Regions from separate parts of the Homo sapiens genome. Here region 2 is linked to region 1. The links come from fine-mapping of genetic effects on gene expression. Tissue or cell type: spleen. Region 1 holds a variant in brackets; the other region holds the start of a gene. All regions are shown on one strand. Distances are from middle to middle.

What was found. PIP is the estimated chance that this variant, and not a neighbour inherited with it, causes the effect.
Region 2: it holds the start of ABHD14B, and the variant in region 1 is fine-mapped to the expression of ABHD14B in spleen (GTEx, PIP 0.92).

What each region holds. Positions count from the first base shown.
Region 1 is chr3:51,894,050-51,896,728 of GRCh38, forward strand. It overlaps IQCF1 (IQ motif containing F1), which reads right to left. Exons shown (of 4, transcript NM_152397.3): 4 at 827-1,287. The coding sequence ends at 841. Among named protein-coding and RNA genes, the nearest start is that of IQCF1, 8.0 kb to the right of the region's middle. The variant C/T (reference allele first, on the strand shown) is at 1,118.
Region 2 is chr3:51,972,582-51,975,260 of GRCh38, forward strand. ABHD14B (abhydrolase domain containing 14B) reads right to left here and starts at 1,468. Exons shown (of 4, transcript NM_001146314.2): 1 at 1,384-1,468. It overlaps ABHD14A-ACY1 (ABHD14A-ACY1 readthrough), which reads left to right and starts at 2,483. Exons shown (of 17, transcript NM_001316331.2): 1 at 2,483-2,623. It overlaps ABHD14A (abhydrolase domain containing 14A), which reads left to right and starts at 2,483. Exons shown (of 5, transcript NM_015407.5): 1 at 2,483-2,623. The coding sequence starts at 2,555. RefSeq lists enhancers at 657-1,593, 1,627-1,806 and silencers at 1,037-1,186, 1,407-1,576, 2,407-2,679.

The DNA.
Region 1 (2,679 bases):
GGCCCCAACCCCACCCCAGCTGGCAGCATTTCACAGGGAGGGACTTTCAGAGGAGCCAGCTCTGCCTGGATTGGCCCTTGCAGAAGTTGGGCCAGTGGGGAGGGTAAGGAACACAAAACTAATGCCTCCTCAGCTCCTGCAGCTGTGATAGCCTGAGGTCTAACACTCACCAGAGGGTTGGGTTGGCAGCAAAATGCCCTCTCTCCCACCCCCTTGCCTGTGGAACCTCCCATACCAGCCTGGTCTGGAGGAAAATGAGTCCTAGTTTTCATACGGGGCTCGAGGGCAAGGGACAGTTGGGGTTTGGGGTTAGGATGAGGACTTGAGTTATGCTAACAGCTTCCAGTTTGGGTCTCAGATTCTTAGAAGCCAAGTATAAGGACATAGCCCCCAGTGCAGCAGGGAGACAAGATCACAGGGCTTGGGGTTGGGGGGCTCCTCTCAGTCCTAGGGGTTGGGGAACAAGCCCTGAGCAACTAGACCCAGACGAGTGAATTCCTGGAGAATGTGTTGCCATTGCCATGACCACCACCCGCCAGGCTTCCATTATACCAAGTCCTAGGGAGGGTGCACTATGTACACAGAATGATGTAAATACGAATGATGCTCCATGGAGTTGGCCAATTGACTGGTCTGTACCCCCAACTTTCCTTCCTACGGCACACATTGCTAATCAATCACAGTCTCTGCTCAGTCTAGAAAAGAGGCTCAGAGTCCTGCTCCACATGAGGCCTCAGACAAGCCCTGCCCATTCCTCAGAGCTGGTATATCAAATGCCAGGTATCTGCCATCCATTGCTCTGACCTGAAGCTTGTCAGAGACTATCTGGAAAAGACCACTTCATTCCTTTATTGAGAAGGGAATACACTCTGTCACAATGCAAGGCCCTGAGTCCAGCAAGATCTCCAGCTGGAGATGCAGCTGGTTGGCTGTGACTCTGTACTGGCCCTTGATGAACCCCCGGGAAGCACAGGAGCGGCACCTCCAGTAAGCCTGGATGATGCGAACAGCATTGAGCACCTGGCAATAGCGTCTGCGGATGCGCCACATGCGGGCCTGGGACTGCAGTGTGACTGCTGCCCACTCCTTCCGGGAGAAGGCCTCTAGCGCTGCCTGC[C/T]GCCTCTTCTTCAGAATCTTGGACAGTATCAGCCGCCACCAGCACTGAATGATGCAGGCACTGAGGGCTGCGTGCAACAGTGCCCGACGCACCAGGGTGCCCCGCCACCAGGCCTGGATCTTGGTGGCTACCGTATCTTTGTCAGAGAGCTTCTTTTGGTTTTCTGGGGGCTTTCAAGAAAAAAAGAGGGACCTTCAGAGAATGCTCCCCACTGGCTTCAGCTCTGGGGTGTGCCAGGAAAGGCCCTGATTCCCTATCAGCAACTGTCTCTTTTTCTGGAATTCAGGAGCACTGGGCAGGGCACTGGCTGGAACCAGAAGATCAGGTAGATGTCCTGCCTCTGCCATCCTCTGGTTGATAGCCACAAGCACAACAACTTGCCCCTGGGTCTCAGTGTCCTCCCCATCTTGGGGCACACCTGCCCTGGCTACCTCACCCAGTTTTCCATGGACCTTGTTGACCAGCAAGAACACTGTGATATAGGGTCAAAGGGTTACCATGTTCCACCCAGGCCTGATCCTTTCTTTCAGACCCCTTCCACCTACTGGAGAAGTCACATCCTTTGCCGGCCCTGCCTTCTCATCCCTGACAACCGTTCATAGCCACAGCCTGTTCTCTCCCTCTGTCATGTCTGAAGACTAAACCCTGATTTTTTCTATGTTGCCCAAATTCCTATCTAAGGGGTCTGGGGAGTCATGCCCCACAAATCATAACTTCTCATCAGATGGGTTTTATTTAACCCTATATATTGTGACTGATTTTCAAACCTGACCCTGGCATAACATTACCAGACAAGGAAGAAAAATATTTTATCCCAAAACATGTTTCTCTGCCATATTTTGAAATGGCCCTGCAAAGCTGTTCTTTGTGGAGGAAAATTTGCATCTGAGTCTCTATTAACATAGCTAGATCTTTTTCTTCCAGACCCTCTCAATCCTAAAGAGATTAACTAACATCTGAATAGGAAACATTTGTCCTCTGTTGTCTCTAAGGGGAGACACTACAAGACTTCAAAAGAACTTTGGTCTCCACAATCTTTTATCTTAACCCAAATGTTCCCTTTCTATGAATCTCAGGTCTTTAGACAAACTCAACCAATTGTCAGTCAAAAGATGTATAAATTCACCTGTAGCCTGGAAACACTGCCCTCTCCCCAGCCACCACTACGAGTTTTCCCACCTTTCTGGACCAAACCAATGTATTTCTTAAATGTATTTGATTGATGTCCCATACCTCTCTAATTTGTATGAAACCAAGCTGTGCCTGGACCACCTTGGGCACATGTTCTCAGGACTTCCTGAGGGCTGTGTCATGGACCATGGTCACTCATACTTGGCTCAGAATAAATCTCTTCAAATATTTTGCAGAGTTCAACTCTTTTTTCTTTCCGTCAACATGTCATAGTATTAAAAGTTCCTCCACCCCAAAGTTCAAACTTACATCTCTTCCCTATCATCATTTTTCTTAACTTTCACATTTTAAATCTTAATTTACAAGCACATATACATGCACAAGCTCAAACACGCGCGCACACACACACACACACGCACACACACACACAC
Region 2 (2,679 bases), 79 kb after region 1:
AAAAAACAGAAAAATTATCAGTGGGGGTGCCTGCTGTAAAACCTCAATATGTGGTGGGGCTCCATTACAATTACTGTTCTTATTCTCATCGTTATTATCCTTTTCTATAAATGGGGATAATTCAATAGTACTAGCTCATAGGTGGTTGATAGGATTAAATAAGGCCATGCATGTACCATGCCTAGCACGTAGTAAGGGCTCAGTGCTCAATCAACGGTAAGTTACAGGTCATGAGTTGTCAATGCAGGCCAGAGGGAGCCCAAATTGGGGTAAAAAGCCCATTTTATTTTATTTTATTCTATTTATTTATTTTGGGACAGAGTTTCACTCTTGTTGCCCAGAATGGAGTGCAGTGGCATGATCTCGGCTCACTGCAACCTCCACCTCCTGGGTTCAAGCGATTCTCCTGCCTCAGCCTCCCGAGTAGCTGGGTTTACAGGCGTGCGTCACCATGCCTGGCTAATTTTTTTTTTTTTTTTTTTGAGACGGAGTCTCGCTCTGTCGCCCAGGCTGGAGTGCAATGGCACATCTCCGCTCACTGCAAGCTCCGCCTCCCGGGTTCACGCCATTCTCCTGCCTCAGCCTCCCGGGTAGCTGGGACTACAGGCACGCGCCACCACGCCCGGCTAATTTTTTGTTTTTTTTTTTTTAGTACAGACGGGGTTTCGCCGTGTTAGCCAGGGTGGTCTCGATCTCCTGACCTCGTGATCCGCCCGCCTCAGCCTCCCAAAGTGCTGGGATTACAGGCGTGAGCCACCGTGCACGGCCTAATTTTTATATTTTTAGTAGAAACGGGGTTTCATCATGTTGGCCGAGCTGGTCCGGAACTCCTGACCTCAAGTGATCCACCCACCTTGGCCTCCCAAAGTGCTGGGATTACAGGCGTGAGCCACCGCGCCGGAACTAAAAGCCCATTTTCTTCGGTTTTTTTTTTTTTCTTTTTTTTTTTTTTAAGAGAAGATGTCTCGCTCTGTCGTCCAGGCTGGAGTGCAGTGGCGCAATCATGGATCACTGCAGCCTTGACCTTCCTGGGCTCAAGTGATCCTCCCGGCTCACCCCCAGTAGCTGGAACCACAGGCGCGCTTCCACACCGGAAAGCCCATTTTCTAGAGGCGGAAACCGAAGCGCCCAGTGGGAAAGGCGACCCGCCGGGGATGCGGGGTGCTCAACGCGCTGCCACCTGGGGCCCAACGCGTTGACCTCGCGGTCAGGTTGCTTCCGCGGACTACGGTTCTGGCTCGCTAGCTCTGGAAGGGAGCACCGGGAGGGAATGGTGGCAACTCCCAAGGAGGGGACCCAGGGATCCGAGAAAGGAAGACTTGGGGTAGGTGGGGTTGGATTTTGACTGGAGAGAAGAAAGGGTCAGGAGTGCAGGGCGGGTACCTGGGGAGCTGCGTGGACTCGCGCAGACGGGAAGCAGGCGCGTGCTGGCGGTGACCTGGGGCCGGAGGAGGAACGCTGGGAAGAGGCCGGGCCCCATCCAGCGGGGGCGGGGACTGGGCCGTGCTCCGGGGCGCCCTCTTGTGGCCACAAGCTCGCAGCGTCCATAGACTCCGCTAAACTCGTTCTCACAGCGGCGTCAGTTTCCCAAAGCCTCTCGGTCTCACATGCCCCAAACGCGGTGCTGAGCACGGTTTCGAACTCTTCAGCGACCTGCCCCACATGGACATGGAGCAGTCTGAGGAGGAAAGTTCCTTCGGGATCGCATCCTTGCTGCTGTCTTCCTGCTCCCCATCCCCCTTATCCCCAGCTTGAACTGCCCAGGGCAACTTGTTGGCCTGGCACGGAGTTGAGGCCCGACAGGTTTGAGTGCGAGGCTCCGCCAGTGTCCAGCCAAGTGGCCTTGATCGTTTTCCCAATGCCCCCGAGCCTGTTTCCTGCCAGTAGAGCGGGTCAGATGTTGCCAACCTCTGCAGAGTAGCAATAAGCAGTAAACGCCACGCTCTGCACAGCCTCCCAGTGCTGGGCCTGGTCGCCACGCGGAGCCTTGGGCTGGGACAGGCCAGACGTTGGTAACACATCGCCAACCAGGGCAGGCGCCATGAGTAGACGTGAACGAGCCCAGGGCCAGCCCAGGCTCTGACCGTGGGTGTGCGTCGGGGAGGGGGTGGGGAGGAGTGGGTAGGAGTCAGGAAAGTGGGTCGGCCAAGACCTGGAGCTGCTGCATAACAATATCTGGCATTTACACAACGAGGCCTCTGCTCCGGACACTGTTCTGAGGCTTGACCCGTCCTTAAGAACCTAGGACAACCCTGTGCGGTGGGTTTTATCCTTAACTCCATTATACAGGCCAGAGAACTGAGCCAGGGTGGAGATGTTCCACTGAGAAGAAGCCACATGGCTCTCCGCCGGCTCTCAAGCCAAAAACAGTTCCGAAAATCTGGGCGGGGAGCGGGCCAGAGAGCGCTGGGGCTCTGCCCCCAGCACCCCCTCCACGCAGACGACTCGGTAACTGGGTTGCAGGCCCGCGGCTGCGGAGTGCGCAGGCGCGCCGAGATGGCCGCGCTCCTGGCCGCCTAGAGCCGGAGCGGCCCGCGGAGCTGCGGAGGCAGCCATGGTCGGGGCGCTGTGCGGCTGCTGGTTCCGCCTGGGCGGGGCCCGCCCGCTCATCCCGTTGGGCCCGGTGAGTCTCCCGGGGGAGGGAGGCCGGCCGGTGGCCCAGGGGAGGGCCGTCTTTAC